Linked DNA regions of Homo sapiens: regions 2, 3, 4 and 5 are each reported to be linked to region 1. The links are microRNA targets in miRTarBase. Many come from high-throughput screens and were not tested one by one. Region 1 holds a microRNA gene; each other region holds the end of a gene's coding sequence.

Region 1 (4,154 bases):
ACCCCACAACAGGCCCCGGTGTGTGATGTTCCCCTTCCTGTGTCCATGTGTTCTCGTTGTTCAATTCCCACCTATGAGTGAGAACATGCGGTGTTTGGCTTTTTTTCCTTGCGATAGTTTTCTGAGAATGATGGTTTCCAGCTTCATCCATGTTCCTACAAAGGACATGAACTCATCATTTTTTATGGCTGCATAGTGTTCCATGGTGTATATGTGCCACATTTTCTTAATCCAGTCTATCATTGTTGGACATTTGGGTTGGTTCCAAGTCTTTGCTATTGTGAGTAGTGCTTCAATAAACATACGTGTGCATGTGTCTTTATAGTAGCATGATTTATATTCCTTTGGGTATACACCCAGTAATGGGATGTCTGGGTCAAATGGTATTTCTAGTTCTAGATCCCTGAAGAATCGCCACACTGTCTTCCACAATGGTTGAACTAGTTTACAGTCCCACCAACAGTGTAAAAGTGTTCCTATTTCTCCACATCCTGTCTAGCACCTGTTGTTTCCTGACTTTTTAATGATTGCCATTCTAACTGGTGTGAGATGATATCTCATTGTGATTTTGATTTGCATTTCTCTGATGGCCAATGATGATGAGCATTTTTTCATGTGTCTGTTGGCTGCATAAATGTCTTCTTTTGAGAAGTGTCTGTTATAAAATAGCACATATATTACTATTATAGGTTAATTTTGAAATAAGCAAAACTTTGTGGGGGGGTGTGTGTGTGTATGAGAGAAACAGAGAGAGAGACAGGGAGAGAGGGAGAGAGAGAGAGAGAGAAAGGAAAGAGTTGAAAAGAGAGATAGTGAAGGGAAACTCAGGTTAATCCTAACTAGCACGCTTGGCTTGGAATCAGGGCTTGATTAATTCTGATGGGTTAGATTTGCTTGTGTTAAAATTTAGCTTAACTTCTGTGAGTTACAAATGACTGAGGAACTATAGTTTTCTATAACTGCTTTTGCAATGGCCTGCTTTTCATTCATACCATACTTAAGTTGCTAACCTCAAATGCATCCTCCTCCCAGTAAGCCTGTTCCATACAGTGAAAATGTTCCTGTCTATTCTAGCTTATTTCAGTTCTGATCATCTAGTATCTTAATTATGCTTAGTTTCTAAATTACATGTTGCCAGCATAAAAAATAATCTTCTAAAATTCATTCCATAAAATCTACAAAAAGAACCTGAAATAGCTTAGGAACTCTGTTTACCAATTCCTCTTAAACATTTGCTAGTAAATCAGTAATGATAGTTTTGGTAAAATTTGAGAACATGCTATTGAATTGCACTTTTTCTCCATTTATTAATGTTAAGTGTTTTAATGCTATCCTTTGTGGAGACAAACCCTGTCTCTACCCGATATTAAGTCAAACACAATATAAAGAGGGTGTCTGAAAACAGAACAAATTTTCTAAAATTGAGTATCTTTGTTTTTAAGAAGATATTTTTCTTGGCACTGATAACCACTGAAACAGAAAGGTGCTTTAAAAATTTCTGAAAAATTGTGGGTTTTAGCTAGGTTCTATGTTTAAAGCCAGGGTTTCTTTAATTACTTTGAATAACTTGGCAGACAATTTAGACTAAGTGTGGTATAAGGAGTACTTTAACCTCCCATCCATATTAAAGGTGAGTATAAAAACAGAATGCATGAGGGAGAATGAATTTGGAGGCTTTGGATAGAATGAACATACCTTTCCTCTGAAAGTCATGCTAACAAGCTATGGGATCCTGGGTATATTCCTTCAGTTGGCTATTGGATGCCCAGTCCCTAAACTCCATTAGAAAATAAGACATAAAGTTTCCTAGAGTACAATCAATAATCTGTATTTCCAGTTTCAGCAGGTGACATCATATGCATTTTCCTGCAAGAATTATCCTAAGAATTGTAGTCAAGGGTGGTCAAAGTAGTAACAGCAATGCAGAAAGTACAGATCGGATGGGTTCAATAGATTGCTTTAGCTGAAGCAAGCCTTCCCATTGTACATATCTCATTGTCTTTCAGAAAAACATGTTTTCACAAATAGAAAGAAGCATCACCCACTGTGTATAAAGCTGTTTTCTCACCAGAGGCAATATGAATCTTTGCTATTATCTTCAGTCATCACCATCCTCCTCCTCCTCATCATCATCTTCAAGACTAACATTTACTAGATGGTGCTACATTCTGAGTAATGTACTTCTGAGTACATTACTTGCATTTATTCATTTGGTTGTCACAACATTTCTTTTAGGTACAAAATATTTTATATTCATATTACAGAAGGCAATGCTGAAACAAACTAACACGCAAACATTTTTACACTAATTACTGTATTCAAAATTCAAAAATATTCCATCTGACTCAAGGCTCTTCATAATGAAACTCTTTTCTCCCACTAGTAGTTTTCAAATTAGACAGAAATAGGCTAAAATAATAAAACTTCCATTCATTAATCTGGGGACTATAGTCAAGGAAGAGACATACTAAGTCTCAGTTTCCTCATTTATAAAATTAACTATATAATGTTACCTATGTATGTGATAAAGTTGTGACTTTTAAAGAAAAAGAGTACACAAAGATGCTTCATATAATGTCTGAGAGTGAGAATTAACCTTAAGATACCAAAGTAACGATATTTGTAATTAGTACGTGTGTGTGTGTGTGTGTGTGTGCATGTGAATGTGTCCTGGGCTTGTGTGTATGTGAATGGGCCAAGTAACAGCATTAATCGAATTTGATGTTTCCTTAGAGATTAATTTAAGCACTCTGAAAATCATGTTGATTGATCAGCAGTCAGGAGACTTTTAATTGAAGTGCTTAATTCATTTAGCTAATGTGATAAACAATGCCAGAAGAAACAAGAAATGAAGCTGTCAGGGGTCCAGATATTTCATGACCTTAATTTTGTTTCAGAAAACCACAACTATTTTTTCAACCTTTTTGGTCTTACTTCCCATTCTTATTTGTCCCCACCTCATTTTATTTCCTTTCATTATAAGGAAGAATTGTCAGGAATGAAATCTGAGAAGCAGTGAACAGATCAAGGCATTTCCTCTACCCCCTTTTAATATAAATACTTGATATCCTGAAAGTAAGAATCCCACGATCCCCACCCCTCCAGCCTCTCATTGCAGGTTTTCTCACAAGTGTTTGTTGGGATATGACTGTAAAGGAGTTTTGAGGCATCCTCCCACCTAATACAGCATACAGCACATACATCATTGACTCTGTATTACATTGTATTATTCTGCAATGTTTGCACACTATTAATTTGACAAAGATTACAAAGCCAATCACATCTGTGACATTATGTTAAAATCAAAAACTGCTGAATGGCTCTGTCTCGGGACAAGTTCAGGCAGAGGTTACTGAATACACTATATCAGCATGAATGAAGGAGTGGGTATATATTTTACTTTCTTATTTTGCATTAAACTCATCAGTGACTGGAAGTTTAGCATGTAGTTTGTTTTACTGATTGTATTCTCAAACAGCTGAAAATACCTTGATCCTGGTGTGAGACTGAACAATGACTAAAAAGATTGTCCTACTTTACTTTAAAAAGGCTTTGAAAATACTATGAATTACTCTAAGGGTCCAGGTAGGATGGTCCCAAAGTATAGGAGAAATAAGAAATAAATTGGTTTCTCGAAATAATTTTTTCATCAGAAAATTTCCATTTTTATCTTTGTTGTCCCTGAAATGCCTCCCTCTAAGTTATATCTACTTTTAGAGTAGAGCTGTTTGCCTCCAAAGACCTTCTATTCTGTGCTCCTGAAACCTCCTTGACATATAACTTATGGGTATCTTTTATTCGGAATTTCCAATTATTGTATGTTTGTGAATAATAATAGATGCTAGATATTGGTTTCTTATTATGATCCGGAAACTAAGTGTTATGGTCTAAATTATGTCTCCACAAAATTCATTGGTTGAAGCCTTAACCCTTAATGTGAATATACTTGGATATAGGACCTTTAATGAGGTAATTACAATTAAATGAGGTTATAAGATGGAGCCATTATCCAGTAGAATTGGTGTGCATATAAGAAGAAGCGACACCAAGAGTGCCTTCATGCAGAGGAAAAGTCATGAAGACACAGCAGTCAGAAAGTAGCTATTTGCAAGTCAGGAAGAAAGGTCTATCAGAATCCAATCTTGGGGGCACCT
Region 2 (4,000 bases), not on the chromosome of region 1:
AAAAGGAAAAAGAGACACAGTAGGAGTAGATCTCCAACAATCAAAGCTAGACGTAGCAGGAGTAGAAGCTATTCTCGCAGAATTAAAATAGAGAGCAATAGGGCTAGGGTAAAGATTAGAGATAGAAGGAGATCTAATAGAAATAGCATTGAAAGAGAAAGACGACGAAATCGGAGTCCTTCCCGAGAGAGACGTAGAAGTAGAAGTCGCTCAAGGGATAGACGAACCAATCGTGCCAGTCGCAGTAGGAGTCGAGATAGGCGTAAAATTGATGATCAACGTGGAAATCTTAGTGGGAACAGTCATAAGCATAAAGGTGAGGCTAAAGAACAAGAGAGGAAAAAGGAGAGGAGTCGAAGTATAGATAAAGATAGGAAAAAGAAAGACAAAGAAAGGGAACGTGAACAGGATAAAAGAAAAGAGAAACAAAAAAGGGAAGAAAAAGATTTTAAGTTCAGTAGTCAGGATGATAGATTAAAAAGGAAACGAGAAAGTGAAAGAACATTTTCTAGGAGTGGTTCTATATCTGTTAAAATCATAAGACATGATTCTAGACAGGATAGTAAGAAAAGTACTACCAAAGATAGTAAAAAACATTCAGGCTCTGATTCTAGTGGAAGGAGCAGTTCTGAGTCTCCAGGAAGTAGCAAAGAAAAGAAGGCTAAGAAGCCTAAACATAGTCGATCGCGATCCGTGGAGAAATCTCAAAGGTCTGGTAAGAAGGCAAGCCGCAAACACAAGTCTAAGTCCCGATCAAGGTAGTATACTTTTTAAAGTATTTTGTCTGATTTTTAAAAAAAATTGACTGAATTTATTCAAAGTTGAAAGTGTCCTTTCTCTCTCTCTTTAATAAACTCAGTTTGGTACTTGATAAATAATCATAGTCTTAAATGTTAGAAATCCTATATAATATTATTTATTTAAAATTGCAGATTTTTAATTTAAAATACATTTTTATTTTTAAATTTTGTCTTTTCCCTTTTTTTTCAGATCAACAACCCCTCCCCGTCGTAAACGCTGAGGAATGATGTGGCAAGAATGCCATGATGTTCTTTAAAAAAATTCCATGAGTTTTAAGGGCTTGTCTCATTATAGAGGCACATTGTGGCTGTGTAGGTGAAACCAGAATCTTTTTTTTTTTTAATCTGTAAATAGGTGTACTTTTTCCAATGCTGCTCCAAGTTACTTAATAGGATTTCTTTGTATTACGTTTTTTTCAAAAAATATAGTGCATAATAAGACTATAAACATGCCATTCTCTTTCAGCTGTAATGTTCTTAAAATTATTCTTGAATGTACTGTGATGTCAATAAAGCTCTTTAGTTCATTTTTGTTAAACTCTTGCACCTTAATTTTATGGTTTTAATCTAAGGAACGTACTTTTATAAAAAGGCAGCTGGAATTTTGTATAACAGGTTTTAAAGGTACCTTCTCTCACCTCCCCCAAAGAAAATGGTTTTTACTTAATAGTTTGTCAAAGTTTGTAAATTGTACCCATGGACTTTTGCCAGATTCCAACTTTAAGGGTATGAAAGAGGGCTAGAAATAGACCTTTACTTTTCATTTGGAAGTATTTGACAACTTTCTAAACTTTTCTTCCTATTTTGGGGATTTTCAAGTAATATATTCTCTGTGTGTATAACGTGTGGTTCACTCCTGTAAAATGAAATTGCTGGAATCAATCAAGCCAGTGCACCAGTAGAGTTATTTGTAAGGAACGATTGTGTTTGACAGTAATAGTCAAGTCTGGAACTATATTCTACAGTCACCCACTTCTGTTTTAGAAGCATTTTGAAACACTTTTTGGGGTTATAGAAATAAGACTCATGATTCAATATATTTATTTATATTTTTAAAGTATAATATGACCTCAAATCAATGGAGGAATGCTGTATTATGCAGGTTTGTGTCAATTTCCTGACATTAAAATTGTCTGATTTTGTCCGTTTCTTAAAATTATGATTAGTGAGTGGTCTAACAGTTTAAGGCATTGATAACTTACAAGTAGAATGGGGCTCTCAAAGCATTTTAACTCAGTTGCTTTAGGGTCCATTTTTTTATGTAATCACTTACTCAGTGATAAATGAATCTCTGAAAACAAATGCTTTTACATTTTAATTTAAAAAGAAAACAGGTGCAGGCCACAGAAAAGTTTTAAAGTATGCCTTCTTACCAGCAATAGTTCATTTTAAAAATCATGCCAGATTTTTGCCAAGATCAGTGTTTCCTCAACATGAAGATAGAAATAGATTTGTATAGTGTGCTCTTGTACCTCTACATAGATTATTATATAATTTTGAGCAGTTACACATTTATCTAAAGGAAATAAATCAACTGTGAATAAATGCATGTTTACCAAAATGGCTGTTTACAGTGCATTTAGTTCTGATATTTATAAAGATGACATTTCACAGAATAACTTTAAAATAGTTTGAAATTCTATATAGTTTAGACATCGATCACATCTGGAGACAAAATAAAATGTGCAATATTTTTTATGTAGGCGAGCTAACACAGTGTACCTAATTGCAGAATTATCTGATTAATTTGTAATAGATAAGTTGTATAACATTTTCATATCTTAAAATGTTTTTTAGATCAATCTTGAAGTGAAATATTTTCAAAATAAAATTCTACAGAAAAATTCTGTTGGCTATGATATGCACATTTTTGGGCAAGTTATGAACTAGAGCCAAAAGTAGTATTTGACAGTTTTATTTACTCTGCCGTAATTTGCAAGCTTATCAGTTAAGTCTGTAGTTTTTTTAAAAGCCGTCATGATATTTGTGATTATTAGTACATAAACCAGTGTTATAATTTGATATTTGGGTTTTTCAGACTTTTAGTGGCAGATTTAGAGAATTCTTTATTTTCTTGACATGTGATATAGTATTTATTTACCTTGAGTGGTAAGGTTTTATAAGGTAGGGTTTCCATGATTTAGGATGTGAATGCAAAAACTTACACATAAGTTAATTAGATGTATAATTTGGTTATGAAATCTTTTCTAAAATAATACCACCAGAAAATTAACAGATCAAATTTTTGAGACAATCCTTGGTCTGGATTGGTTAATGAAAATGTCTTGTTTAAGAGGTTCTATTAAAAAATATTTCTAGTGTATTAGTCATAATTGTTTTTGTGGAGTGGGGGTAAACCACACCATTAAGGGAATAAAATGTAATTTGAAAGAGGTGATTATAAGATTTGTTTCAGGCCCCAAAATATAAATAAAAATTGGTGTGGAATCTCGTTAGTGTATATGTTTTCTGCCACTATAAAATTACCTTTTTAGCATCTGTTTCTAGTGGTGTAATACCAAGTAGGTAAATTTCGCAGTCTATTTTTAAGTGTCCTGAGTTTTTTGTTTCCTTAAACACATGAAAGGTAATAGTAAAGAATTTTTTACTGTATTTGGGAATTTTTACATAGGAGTTGTATTAGGTTTCCAGTCTCTGTAGTGTTGCCTTACAGAAATCTTTACATCTAAACTGAGTTTTTCTTCTCCTACATAAATTTAAATGTATTTTGATTTACTGAAGTTTCTAAAATGTACTGAGTACAGACATACACCACATAACGACGTTTCAGTCAATGACGGGCCACATGTACAACAGTGGTCCCATAAGATTATAATGTATTTTTACTGTACCTTTTCTGTGTTTAAATACACAAAACCATGATATTACAGTTGCCTACAGTTTTCAATATAGTATTTGTAGCCTAGGAGCAAAAGGCTATACCATGTAGCCTGGGTGTGTAGTAGTCTATACCATCTAGGTTTATGTAAGTATACTCTGTGATGTTCACATCACAATGAAATCACCTAATGACACATTTCTCACATGTCCCCAAGTTAAGCAACTGCATAGTTGCTGTTTCTTGCTTTTTGAGATGGAGTCTTTCTCTGTTGCCCAGCCTGGAGTGTAGTGGCGCAGTCTCAGCTCACTGCAAACTCTGCCTCCTGGGTTCAAGTGATTCTCTTGCCTCAGCCTCCTGA
Region 3 (4,154 bases), not on the chromosome of region 1:
ATCTTGCCATTGGCCTCTGCCTCTTCAACTTACACTAATAGTTCTTTTTTTTTTTTTTGAGACAGAGTCTCGCTCTGTCGCCCAGGCTGGAGTGCAGTGGCACGATCTCCGCTCACTGCAAGCTCTGCCTCCCAGGTTCACACCATTCTCCTGCCTCAGCCTCCCAAGTAGCTGGGACTACAGGCACCCGCCACCACACCCGGCTAATTTTTTGTATTTTTAGTAGAGACGGGGTTTCACCGTGTTAGCCAGGATGGTCTCGATCTCCTGACCTGGTGATCCACCCACCTCGGCCTCCCAAAGTGCTGGGATCACAGGTGTGAGCCATCGCACCCGGCCAACTTACACTAATAGTTCTAAAATGAAGCCATGTCTATAAATTGTTAACACTTGAGGCAGAGAGGAAGTGAGGGATTGAGTAACAGAACTTTAAAAATCATTCTAAAAATTCTACATGTTCACATTTAATTGCTCAAGTCTCTGTGATGTGATTTGACAACAAGCTGTCTTACAATCATGTGTTTGTCTTTACAGTGATCCTGCCATGAAGCAGTTTCTGCTGTACTTGGATGAGTCCAATGCCCTGGGGAAGAAGTTCATCATTCAAGACATTGATGACACTCACGTCTTTGTAATAGCAGAATTGGTTAATGTCCTCCAGGAGCGAGTGGGTGAATTAATGGACCAAAATGCTTTTTCCCTTACCCAGAAATGAAAATACTCAATATGGACCATTTAGGAATTATAAGCAGCAACTGTGAAAGACTTGCCACTCAATATCTTAGGTGACTGATTAGACATAGAGGGTTGTTTTAGGAGCATGCCACGGGAAAGACTGAGGGATCATGATCATTTGTTCAGAAAAAAAGCCCCTGAACTGATTTTGTTACCATAGAATTTAAAAAAAAAAAAAGCTTTAACAGTTGGCTGTAATTTGGCTTTTATTATCCTTTATTAAAATACAAATGTCAATGCTTTTCCTGCCTTTTTAATACCATGTCAGTGTAACATAGGTATTTATTTTGCTCATCCCTGTGATCTGTGCATTTTTGCTGCGTGGATGTGATTGTTTGGTTTCAGTTAGAAACGTCATAGATTTGCTGTTTGAATATGCCAAGGTGGGGACTTAGACATTATGTACGTCTCACAAATCCTACCTGCATACCAGTCAGCTCTATTGAGGAAGACAATGTAAAACTAATGTAAACTACAGTTTGCATTTCCCTGAAAACAGAATATTGTTTTTAAGAGGGTTAGAAACAACCAGTGGGAAAGGCACATGCTGCTTTGTTTAGTTTTTCCTTGTTCAAACTTTGTTGGTCACATTTTCCCATCTGTATTCTTTTTTATTAAGAAAACAGCTTAGGGAGGCTGAGGTGGGAGGATTGCTTGAGCCCAGGAGTCCGAGGTTGCTACAAAAACACCATTGCACTCTGGCCTGGACAACAGAGAGACCCTGCCTCAAAAAAAAAAAAAAAAAAAAAAAAAATTCTACTTGTACCTTATTCCCTATGAGAATACTTATCAAACTTATCTAAAAAAGAAAAATAGGAACAGCCATATGCAAAGTCAGCCCAACAGGAAAGGACATATTAGATTAAAATACATTGCGGCCTGGGCTTAGTGGCTCACACCTGTAATCCCAGCACTTTGGGAGGCTGAGGCAGGCAGATCGCTTGAGTCCAGGAGTCGAAACCCTGTCTCTACAAAAAAAAAAATACAAAAATCTGCCTGTTGTCCCAGCCACTGGGGAGGCTGAGGTAGGAGGTCAAGGCTGCAGTGAACCTTGATCATTGCTACTGCCACTCCAGCCTAGGTGACAGAGTGAGACCCTGTCTCCAAAAAAAAAAGTGTATATGTATGTGTGTATATATAGCAAGAGAGAGTTCTGTGATCAATTGAAGGCAAAAACAGTAACACTGAGAGGGGCTTTGCTTCCCTTCCTGAAGATCATGTCATTGGGGTGGGTTCCTGTAAAGGGAATTTTCCAAGAGAAAAGAGAATTTTCATGACCTGTAGACTCTTACAAATCCATTTTACCTGCTTCCTTATGGTATGTTTATTCAAAGCACCTGTGTACCATATTTATTCACTTACACAGCATTACTGAATCTGGAAATTTTCAGTTAGGTATATTTTACATAATTCCCACCCATATAACTCAGTCCATACAGTTCACAGTTTTCATTCCCTCATAGCAATGCAAAAAATTTTGATGAGTTACTACTACTAAAACTAGTTAAGTAAAAGATGATTCTTAAGAATTTCCAGGCTGGGCACGGTGGCTCACGCCTGTAATCCCAGCACTTTGGGAGGCTGAGGCAGGCAGCTCACGAGGTCAGGAGATCGAGACCATCCTGCTCGGTGAAACCCCATCTCTATTAAAAATACAAAAAATTAGCCGGGCCTGGTGGCGGGTGCCTGTAGTCCCATCTACTCAGGAGGCTGAGGCAGGAGAATGGCGTGAACCCGGGAGGCGGAGCTTGCAGTAAGCTGAGATTGTGCCACTGCACTCCAGCCTGGGCGACAGAGGGAGACTCCATCTCAAAAAAAAAAAAAAAAAAAAATGAATTTCCAGCTATACCAAAATGTTACTAATGTATCTTATATTTCAGGCATGTCTAAATCAACTTTTAGTATGCCTCAGGCATTTGTCACCAACCTTTTATATTAACATGAAACTTAGAAAATTTTTGATAGAATCCCAGAGTTCAAAAGGTATTAGGATTTTTGCCACTGAAGTAAAAAAGAGAAAAAAAGATATTTATGAGAAAACTATTGAACAGTGACTGTGTTGTACCCGAGCAAGTTAGAGGAACGCCACACTTTGAGACGAATTTAAAAGTCCTTTATTTAGCTGGCAGCCAAGAGGTGGCTCACACTTGGAATTCTCTCAGCTCCGAGGAAGGGGCTTGATTTTCCTTTATACTTTGGTTTAGGAAGGGGACGGGAGCTCAGTTGCAACAATTCTACAGAAGTAAAAACATGCAAAAAATTAAAAAGACAAATGGTTACAGAGAAACAAACAGTTCCAGGTGCAGGGGCTCTAAATCTATCATAAGATGTCAGGTGTGGGGGCTCTGCCAGACACAAACTCAAGGCTTTATGGTGTATCTCTTGAGCGAAATCCTGGGAACTTCGTACATTGCTTGCTTCAGTACCTTATGAGTTAATTGGACTCTTTGATATGTTGAGAGTCAGCTTACACAAGTTAACTCCTTGAGGAAAGGGGGTGGGTAAGGAGTCCTTGATGTCCTGTAAATGAAGGAACCAAATGGAGTTCCTCCGGCTTTCTCAGCTAAGGGAGAGCTTATTCACATGGAAACAAGGCTAGGTGATTAAGGGAGAAAGGGACAGTCTGAAAACAAGGTTAGTAAAAACAAGGTTAGGTATTAGAACTGCAAAGAGTATTAAGTGAAATAAGTGAAGGAAAATATGAGCTCTTATTTTTAAAAAGTTGTGTTGGGGCAAATGTTAAATATCTTTCTTTCTCTGGACATTATTAAGAAAGATAGAGTGATGTGAATGATAGGAAGCCCACCTGTAACCACTTAGCTGACATGTCCAACTATGGGTGAACAGGAAATAAGCGACATTCACCTAGGCTGTTTATTGGAATCTGACTAGCATTATTTGATTTGGCATACTTTACATGTCCAGAACAAGGCTGTTGGTGCTTGGCACCAAGAAATTTATGACTTTTTTTTTTTTTTTAAATAAAGTCCTAAAGGTAGCATTAAAATGACTTAACTGGAGGCAGGAGGATCACTGAAGCCCAGGAGTTTGAAGCTGCAGTAAGCTAAGAAGGTGCCACTGCACTGCAGCCTGGATGACAGAGTGAAACTTTGTCTCTTAATAGAACTATGGACTGAAGTTGTGATATTGAGTGTTATATTTCTCAATAAAGGTTTTTTCTTTTAATACTGTATTAGGTCAAATTCAAGGTCTTAATTCCTTGAATTCCAATTTCCTTGTGAAATTTCATGTGATTAATTTAAAATTCCAGGGATCCTATCTAACATCACAGTTGATGGATATAACAATGTATTTTGAGAAATCAGTTTTGGTGAACAGTAACAGCATTACTGATAATAGGCAACAAACACTACTGCATTTTATTTCTGATAGGCATTATAGGTGGTAATCCAAATGAT
Region 4 (4,144 bases), not on the chromosome of region 1:
GATGGCTGAGGCCTCTGACTCCTGGGTGAGGCCAGCTGTGTCCCTGACCATCTGCTTGGCCTGTCAGTGGCCAGGGCACTCTCGAGGTGGCCTCCACTCTTCCCCCAGCCCTGGGTGCAGGTGGGCACCTCTGCAGGAGCCAGTCTTGTCTGGAGGTTCTCTGAAGGCAGGAACCCCCACAGGCCCCAGGGCATAGCAGCGCCTCAATTAGCCGAGAGCAAGGCCTCTCGTGGTGATGTGGCTCTTGTTGTTTGTCCCGGGCCCTGGGGCACCCGGCTGAGTGTCTTGGTCCCTCTCCCACCCCACCTGTGAGCTTGGGGTCTCCCCTCAGAGGCCTGAGGAGATGGTGTTCCCTGGGTGCTCCTGAGCACCAGCCCTCACTGCCAGGCTACTCTTGGAGCAGCACAAGGTTAGGATGTGCTGGCCACCGCCTTGGGGCTGGTGGCCGCCTGGGCACTCAGGGCCTCCTTTGGGCCGTCTTACCTCGTCTCTCTCCTCCAGGAGGCAACGCACGGGCCACAGGCATGTTCCTGCAGTATACAGTGCCGGGGACGGAGGGTGTGACCCAGCTGAAGCTGACAGTGGTGGAGGACGTGACTGTGGGCAGGAGGCAGGCGGTGGCGTGGCTAGTGGCCATGCACAAGGTACCTGAGCCCAGGCCAGGGAGGCTGGGCCCTTTGGCTTAGACAAAAGCTTGCCTTTCCCAGAGGAAGCTCTGTGTCCTGCCATTTGCCCCCTATCCCCACAACCTGTTCCCCCTCAGCTGGGGTGCCCACGCCATCTCCCCTGAAATGCACACAGGCTTGGCTCCACCAGGCACAGGACCAAGCAGGCCTCACTGTGTTGATCTTGTCTGATCTGCAGGCTGCCAAGCTCCTCTATGAATCTCGGGACCAGTAACTCTACGTGGGGCTGAGCTTGGAGTACGTGTGGTCACCAGGACTGAGTCGCTTGGAACAGCAGAGCCTGCTCCTTGCGTACCACAGGGATTAATCCTGCTTGTGCTGGGAAATGCAACTCACTCATGTATTTGGAGAAACAGGAGTGTTCACTTATCTAGTGCAATATGTTCACAGTTTATTAATGCTTTAAACAGCTTCATGTTTTAGAATTTGTGTATTGTCAATACTTAATTGGGGGTGGGAGAGACTGAGCTACACTACTGCTAAACTATTTTTAGCATAATATATACCATTTTTATGAGTTCGCAGGTCTACTAGAAGGTTCTGGCCCATCAATATTCATTTCATTTAATTCTTCCACAGAACCAGTTTGGGCAGTAGGAACTCAGGCTTCTGGTCTGCAGTGGAGCCTGTTCGCCTCTAATAGCCAGTTTACAGCACTTGCCTTAGCCTGTTTCACAGACTTGTCCACTTACCTTGTCACTAATTTGGGGCTTCTGGGCTGTGAGTGATCCTTTGATACTTCACCAAGGGGAACGTGGGGGCTTTGTGTTTTGTACTTTTCACTCACTATTTCACTTTATTAAGATGACTGTACAGCAATTTGTATATAAAGCTTATGATTAAAAACTATTTTGAACATACGGACAAGGCCTCGCCTTCCTGTGTCCAGATCACCTGAACCCTCGTGCCACAGCGCAGTCTGGGTCCAGAAAGAAGACTCACAGCCGCCGGGGTGAGACGGGTTTATTGTGCACATTTACACAGCGTCAGCAGCGTCTGGGCTGGCAGCGGCCATGCTCCTGTGGTCGGGCTGCTCTACAAGGGCGTTCACTTTTCTTCACCACACTATGTACAGTCAGTGCTCCAAGGTGATGGGCTACAGTGCTGCATCAGTGAGTCTGTACACACATTTTTACATAAATTACACACGACTCATACATGAAAAATAGAGCCTAAGGGCCTGTATTTTAATGAGAAAAAAAAAATTTCCAACATAGTTCGGGTAGCTTTGAATGGTCTAGTCAAAAAATACTTTTGGTATATAAAAAGCCTGTACGTACAATTCACACCTCAGTGAAGCGCCCTCCTTGCCTTGAGGCTGGGCCTGGGACAAAGGTGGCCTCACAGCCAGCCCAGGCAGGGAGATCGGCAGAGAGGGGTGGCCCCTGACCCCAGCTCCTCTGCCCCAGCTGCTGCTCCTTGGTGGCGGCCCCTCCTGACACCAGGCGTCTGCCATCCTTCAGGCACCAAACAGCCCCGTCTACCTGGCCCTGGTCTGCCCTCACACCAGTCCACCCCCAGCCCCAACCCCAACCACCCTCCGCTGCCACGGCCTCCAGCACCTGACTCCATTCAGGGAACTGAATTTGAGCTTGCAGGGGTGAGAACCACACTGAGCAGCATGACAGGCTGTGAGATCGGAGGAGAAGAGTATATGCTGAGGCTCTCCCAGTTGTCACTTGGTCTTAGGGGTCCTGGTGCCCGTGGCGCGGCAGTCCAGCCACAGTGCTGGGCCTGCACAATCAGCCTTTAGGTGAACTGGAACAGGAAGCGGAACCCCCAAGGCGGCCGAGCAGAGTGGGTACTGGGAGGCATACACACTGGGCAGCAACACTGGACATGTTTCCATACAGAGGCTCCTTTGGTGATGAAGGGAAGAAGGATCATGTGTGGGAAGTGTGAGAAAGGATGAGTGTCCGATTCGGTGACGGGGGGCAGGGCGGTCGCAGGGGAGCAGGCCTCACAGCGGCGGACAGTGTTCACTGCTGGAGGGGGTGATGGCCTCGGGGCCAAGTCAGTAAGAGCTTCTGTCTTCACTGGCAACCAACCGGGGGTTATGGGACTTCTTAATGGCAAGAGGGGTGGGTGTTTTGAAAGTGGGTATTTATTTGGATTTATAGTAATTGGCAAAATTCAGTCCTTGGAGGCGAAAGTACCTCTCCCAGTTAATGGGCAAACTGGAGAAAGGGCCTCACCTGGAAACTGTAGGATTCACATTGTGGACGCTGTCTGCTAAAGTGAGCACCATTAAGACCATTTTCTAGCTGCAGCTTTCCTGGAAAACAGCACAATAATCTCTTAAGTGGCTCCTGGTAGCTGGCAAGACCATGCGGTGCTCCAAAAGGAAGTTCAGGCGAGTGTTCGCTGTCGGGGTTTGATCCGTGGATACAGCTGGGAAGCAACGGAGCCGCGTCAGGACAGGAAGCCACACACAGGGAGCAGGGCCAGCCAGACCCGACCCCTGCTCCTCACCTCAGCCACCCTGGACAGCCGTGCAGCACCCTTGTCCCTCAGGCCTACGCTCAGCTGCACCTCTACACTGAGACCCACCCAGCCCTCTTTAAAATGTGCCTTGTACCCCCAGAATATCCTATTTTTCTCACAACACTTCATGCCACCTAAAGACTTGTGACTGCCTGTGGCTCTCAAGGTCATAAGCTCCCCTGGGCAAGGGTCTCTGCCTGGCTCCCTGCTGTGTTTGCCTGGCCAAGAACGTTGGCTCAACAGCAAGCCCCTGGCAGCTCTGCAGGGCACAAAGAGAGCAGAGGCAGCTCCCTCTGCCAGAGGACTGAGGGAATCACAAGTCCAACACAGAGCTAGCAGCCTGCACGTTCCCACCTCTCCCTCCACTGGAGAAATTTCTAGGCTGCAGAGATTTCTAGATTGGGGAAAGTGTGGGTGGGCTGAGCCGGGCCACTTGGTGAAGTTCATCATGAACCGAGCTCATTGAGCGGCCCCTCACTGGGGCACTCAGCCTCCGCACGGGCCTCCATGGCATAAGCATGGCTGGGGGAACCTCCTGGGGCCCTGCCTGAGCCTCATGCCAGCTCTGCCAAGTAGGCACCTCCCCCTCTACAGAGGGGGCTGCTGAGGCTCAGAGAAGCGAAGCCTCCCTCCCCAGCCCCACAGCAGGATAGGACCGCATGCTGTACAGAGACACGGGCAGCTAGTTTCCCAGTAAGTAACCTGAGTGCTCACCCCCAGCAGGTTTTTGGGCACATAGCCCTCCCGGTCTCCAAGGCGAGCCCACCACCACTCAGTCTCGCTTTCGTCCTTGCGCCTCAGGATGGTGAGGGCGTCCCCTTCGTGGAAGGACAGCTCGTCACTGTTCTGGGCCTCGTAGTCCCACAGAGCATACGCCACACCTTTGTTCATCACACCCAGCTTTTCCTGCACCCCTGGAGCCAGAGAGCAATGGTCAGGCCTCAGCAGAGGGTGGCCTGCAGCAAGGGACCCTG
Region 5 (4,141 bases), not on the chromosome of region 1:
GCTAACATGGTAGGTCATGGCTTAAATGGGACAGTTGGTGATCAAGCAATTGAGATAATCAAAGGCCATGAATGGCCATGGCTCTCTCCTTACAATTATCCTTTGAATAAAAAGTGACAGCATGACATGGAATAAAGATACAAACTTTTATTTCATTGTTTCTAAATGAAAGCCACCATATAAAAGCAACAGGTTAATGATGGTCCAGATGTAGCACAAGTGCTTGTTCAATTCACAGAAAATGATTGCATGAGGCATGTTCAGTTTCACTTGGACATGACCCATCGAATTTATCACAGGGAGAAACAGAGTGGAGACTCATTAACTTTCTGCCTATCATATTTATTTTTTATGCAGAATCAGTTTTAATCCCTATGGGAGGAGAAATAAGCGTATTCACAGTGACATCTGAGATATAAAAGAAAGTCCCCATGGTGAGGTCTGAGACATGGGAGAAAGTCTCCATTACATAAAAAACTTTTATGCCTTTTATCCCATACCCCTTTGAAAACTGGGGACAGACACTTGTGACTTTTGTCTTCATTCATTAAAAATTCACTTTTATCTCATGGAGGGTGCTGATTCCTACCATTATATTTTCAGGTGACCAAACTTTTTGCTGAAGCTGTGCAGAAATCTCGCAAGGTGGACTCCAAGAGTCTTTTCCACTACAGGCAGTACAGTGCTGGAAAAGCAGCATAGAGATGCAGACACCCCAGCCCCATTATTAAATCAACCTGAGCCACATGTTATCTAAAGGAACTGATTCACAACTTTCTCAGAGATGAATATTGATAACTAAACTTCATTTCAGTTTACTTTGTTATGCCTTAATATTCTGTGTCTTTTGCAATTAAATTGTCAGTCACTTCTTCAAAACCTTACAGTCCTTCCTAAGTTACTCTTCATGAGATTTCATCCATTTACTAATACTGTATTTTTGGTGGACTAGGCTTGCCTATGTGCTTATGTGTAGCTTTTTACTTTTTATGGTGCTGATTAATGGTGATCAAGGTAGGAAAAGTTGCTGTTCTATTTTCTGAACTCTTTCTATACTTTAAGATACTCTATTTTTAAAACACTATCTGCAAACTCAGGACACTTTAACAGGGCAGAATACTCTAAAAACTTGATAAAATTAAATATAGATTTAATTTATGAACCTTCCATCATGATGTTTGTGTATTGCTTCTTTTTGGATCCTCATTCTCACCCATTTGGCTAATCCAGGAATATTGTTATCCCTTCCCATTATATTGAAGTTGAGAAATGTGACAGAGGCATTTAGAGTATGGACTTTTCTTTTCTTTTTCTTTTTCTTTTTTTCTTTTTGAGATGGAGTCACACTCTCCAGGCTGGAGTGCAGTGGCACAATCTCGGCTCACTGCAATTTCCGTCTCCCAAGTTCAAGCGATTCTCCTGCTTTAGACTATGGATTTCTTTAAGGAATACTGGTTTGCAGTTTTGTTTTCTGGACTATATCAGCAGATGGTAGACAGTGTTTATGTAGATGTGTTGTTGTTTTTATCATTGGATTTTAACTTGGCCCGAGTGAAATAATCAGATTTTTGTCATTCACACTCTCCCCCAGTTTTGGAATAACTTGGAAGTAAGGTTCATTCCCTTAAGACGATGGATTCTGTTGAACTATGGGGTCCCACACTGCACTATTAATTCCACCCACTGTAAGGGCAAGGACACCATTCCTTCTACATATAAGAAAAAAGTCTCTCCCCAAGGGCAGCCTTTGTTACTTTTAAATATTTTCTGTTATTACAAGTGCTCTAATTGTGAACTTTTAAATAAAATACTATTAAGAGGTAATGCAGTTGAATCTGGTTTTATTTTATGTTGCTGTACAAAAATCAGTTTACTTCTATGATAAAATAGGGTTTTGGGCCAGGATTGCATTGCTTATTTATTTTTTCCATGCAAACCCATATAGGGATGAGAAAATTAATGTTAAAAATAAGTTTTAGCTGTCACATTTTTCATTTTTTCTTGTCCCTCCCTTGCTTTTAAGTCTCATCATAACATTATGTGGTTATATGGCTATAAACCATCTTTGATCTGGATCCTTTCTAATGTATAACTACAACCACAAACTGATTAAAGATTGCCACAAATATATAGTAAACTTTCAAACAAATGTCTTGCATAACTCAGAAAAGTAACTTAACCCAATCAGAGGCTGACCAGCATTGTCTGATGGAAATAGTGCCAATGAGCACACTGATGCCATATCCCCAATTTACCACCGAAACTATGGCTTTGTGAAGGTCCTAAGATAATTATGCTATAACAGCTTTTATTTCTTCCTTGTTACCTCACAGTCAATTGATTACCACTTTGTATAGCTCTAGACGAATGCTTAAAGTAATTCATCTTCTCTCCCCCTCACTTCCTTGTTCTTCCTGTGGTCAAGACTTTCATTACTTCTTCCCTGTAATCTTTTTTTTTTTTTTTTTTTTTTTTTGAGACGGAGTTTTGCTCTTGTCACCCAGGCTGGAGTGCAGTGGCGCGATCTCAGCTCACTGCAACCTCCATCTCCTGGGTTCCAGCGATTCTCCTGCCTCAGCCTCCTGAGTAGCTGAGATTACAGGTGCCCGCCAACAAGCCTGGCTAATATTTTGTATTTTTAGTAGAGACGGGGTTTCGCCATGTTGGGCAGGCTGGTCCCCTATAATCATATAATTATGTAATCCCTGATCACTTTGATTCATTCACCTGAAAATATTTAATGAGTTTCTTCCATGTTTCATGTAGAATATATCACAATCTCTCCTACTATTATTCTAGCATGTTTCTGTTACATATCACCAGCACCACAACCACCATCACCATAATAATTAACATTATGGAGTCCATACTATTTTTCAGGCATTTGTAAGTACTTTACATGAGTTAACCTAGTTAATCCACAAAATATCCCTGTGAGTAGGTGCTGTTATCTCCATACTATAAATAAGAAAACTTAGGCATACCAAAGTTAAGTAACATGCTCAAGGTCACACGAAATGGAGTCTCACTTTTCTGTATCATATTCTGGTGAAGGTAGGCATGTAAAAAGAAATCATTTCTCACAGTAAAGAAAATAATTTGCCTGCAGAGATCAGGGAAGGGCATTTTAAGGAGATGGATTCATGTGTTGCCTTGAATAAGATCTTGCAGTTGCCAAGGAAGACTAGAAGGTAAGGACATTTAGGAAAATGACAATGACGTTGTTATGACTGGAGCTCAGGGTATGTGTGGAGGGAAAGGGCTAGTAGCAGAAGTTGAGACTGGACTCTTAATGGTGGATGTTTAAACTAGGTAGAAGTTTTAAAACTTTTTATTTGGAAATAATTTTGGATTTAAATTTTAAAAGTAAAAAAATCCCCAGATCTACCTATTGGTAATATTTTACTTCATTTGCTTTATTCTACTCTTATCATCTATTTCTCTATCTAAACACACTTGACACACATACATATTCACAGAGGAAGATAAAAATTACATGTTGACTAAAAGTGAGCAGGCTGTTAGTGACCAATTTAGATATGTAACTCAATGTTTTAAATAAACAATTGTTTGCTGAAACTGTCAAAAACTCAATTAGTTAATCATTGTATTGTGAGAATTTAATAAAGGGTCCTAATTTTTATATTAATGTGAGCCGGCTATTTGTAAGATATGGTAAAATTTGAAGATTAATAATAATTAATTTAACATTGTGTCTATATAAACTCTGTTTTTTGTTGACAAAAGGGCTTTGGAAAACCAGAAGACAGGATAGACCTCATGGTGCTGAAAATGGAATTACATTAATTTTTGTTTTGGTTGCCTTTCTGTTTTCCAACATTCCAAACTTTAAAAAGACTTAACAACAGATAAATAACACATTTAAGATCTTTGGTTGGAGGAGAGAAATCCAAGAAAGTAGAAACATTTGTGCTCAGATTTGGCAAGGCTTTGTCCTTTTGGAACATATTTATTCTTTCATATAAACATGTTAACACATTTTTAAATGTCCAAATCTATTATATATCACAAGTTCGGACAACACAGGGTCTATGTCTGTAGAGCTGAATAACAAATCTAAGTAGCTTTTTCCATACTGAGAATTTAATGGTGTGCAAGAAGGATGGGCTCTATTGAAGAG

Evidence for each region. Region 1 holds the annotated microRNA hsa-miR-8054 (GAAAGUACAGAUCGGAUGGGU, at 1,926-1,946, shown strand). A microRNA usually pairs through its seed, bases 2 to 8, with sites in the 3' UTR of a target mRNA and lowers its output. Matches are read on the target gene's strand: a 7mer-m8 pairs with bases 2 to 8, a 7mer-A1 pairs with bases 2 to 7 and ends in A, and an 8mer does both.
Region 2: miRTarBase lists PNISR as a target of hsa-miR-8054. Seed matches in the 3' UTR shown: 7mer-m8 at 1,158-1,164 and 7mer-m8 at 1,377-1,383.
Region 3: the mRNA of GTF2H5 is a reported target of hsa-miR-8054. Seed matches in the 3' UTR shown: 7mer-A1 at 3,645-3,651.
Region 4: the mRNA of ZFYVE21 is a reported target of hsa-miR-8054. Seed matches in the 3' UTR shown: 7mer-m8 at 1,459-1,465.
Region 5: the mRNA of CPS1 is a reported target of hsa-miR-8054. Seed matches in the 3' UTR shown: 7mer-A1 at 1,054-1,060.

The regions. Positions count from the first base shown.
Region 1 is chr11:23,416,952-23,421,105 of GRCh38, reverse strand. It overlaps MIR8054 (microRNA 8054), which reads left to right and starts at 1,916; the gene lies at 1,916-2,001.
Region 2 is chr6:99,397,302-99,401,301 of GRCh38, reverse strand. It overlaps PNISR (PNN interacting serine and arginine rich protein), which reads left to right. Exons shown (of 12, transcript NM_032870.4): 12 at 1-3,252. The coding sequence ends at 762. Among named protein-coding and RNA genes, the nearest start is that of COQ3, 5.1 kb to the right of the region's middle.
Region 3 is chr6:158,191,443-158,195,596 of GRCh38, forward strand. GTF2H5 (general transcription factor IIH subunit 5) reads left to right here. Exons shown (of 3, transcript NM_207118.3): 3 at 535-4,154. The coding sequence ends at 715. Among named protein-coding and RNA genes, the nearest start is that of GTF2H5, 25 kb to the left of the region's middle. RefSeq lists an enhancer at 2,929-3,529.
Region 4 is chr14:103,732,119-103,736,262 of GRCh38, forward strand. ZFYVE21 (zinc finger FYVE-type containing 21) reads left to right here. Exons shown (of 7, transcript NM_024071.4): 6 at 502-644; 7 at 865-1,546. The coding sequence ends at 900. It overlaps PPP1R13B (protein phosphatase 1 regulatory subunit 13B), which reads right to left. Exons shown (of 17, transcript NM_015316.3): 16 at 3,885-4,084; 17 at 1,077-3,077. The coding sequence ends at 3,036. Among named protein-coding and RNA genes, the nearest start is that of ZFYVE21, 18 kb to the left of the region's middle.
Region 5 is chr2:210,677,284-210,681,424 of GRCh38, forward strand. It overlaps CPS1 (carbamoyl-phosphate synthase 1), which reads left to right. Exons shown (of 38, transcript NM_001875.5): 38 at 604-1,824. The coding sequence ends at 702. Among named protein-coding and RNA genes, the nearest start is that of CPS1-IT1, 62 kb to the left of the region's middle.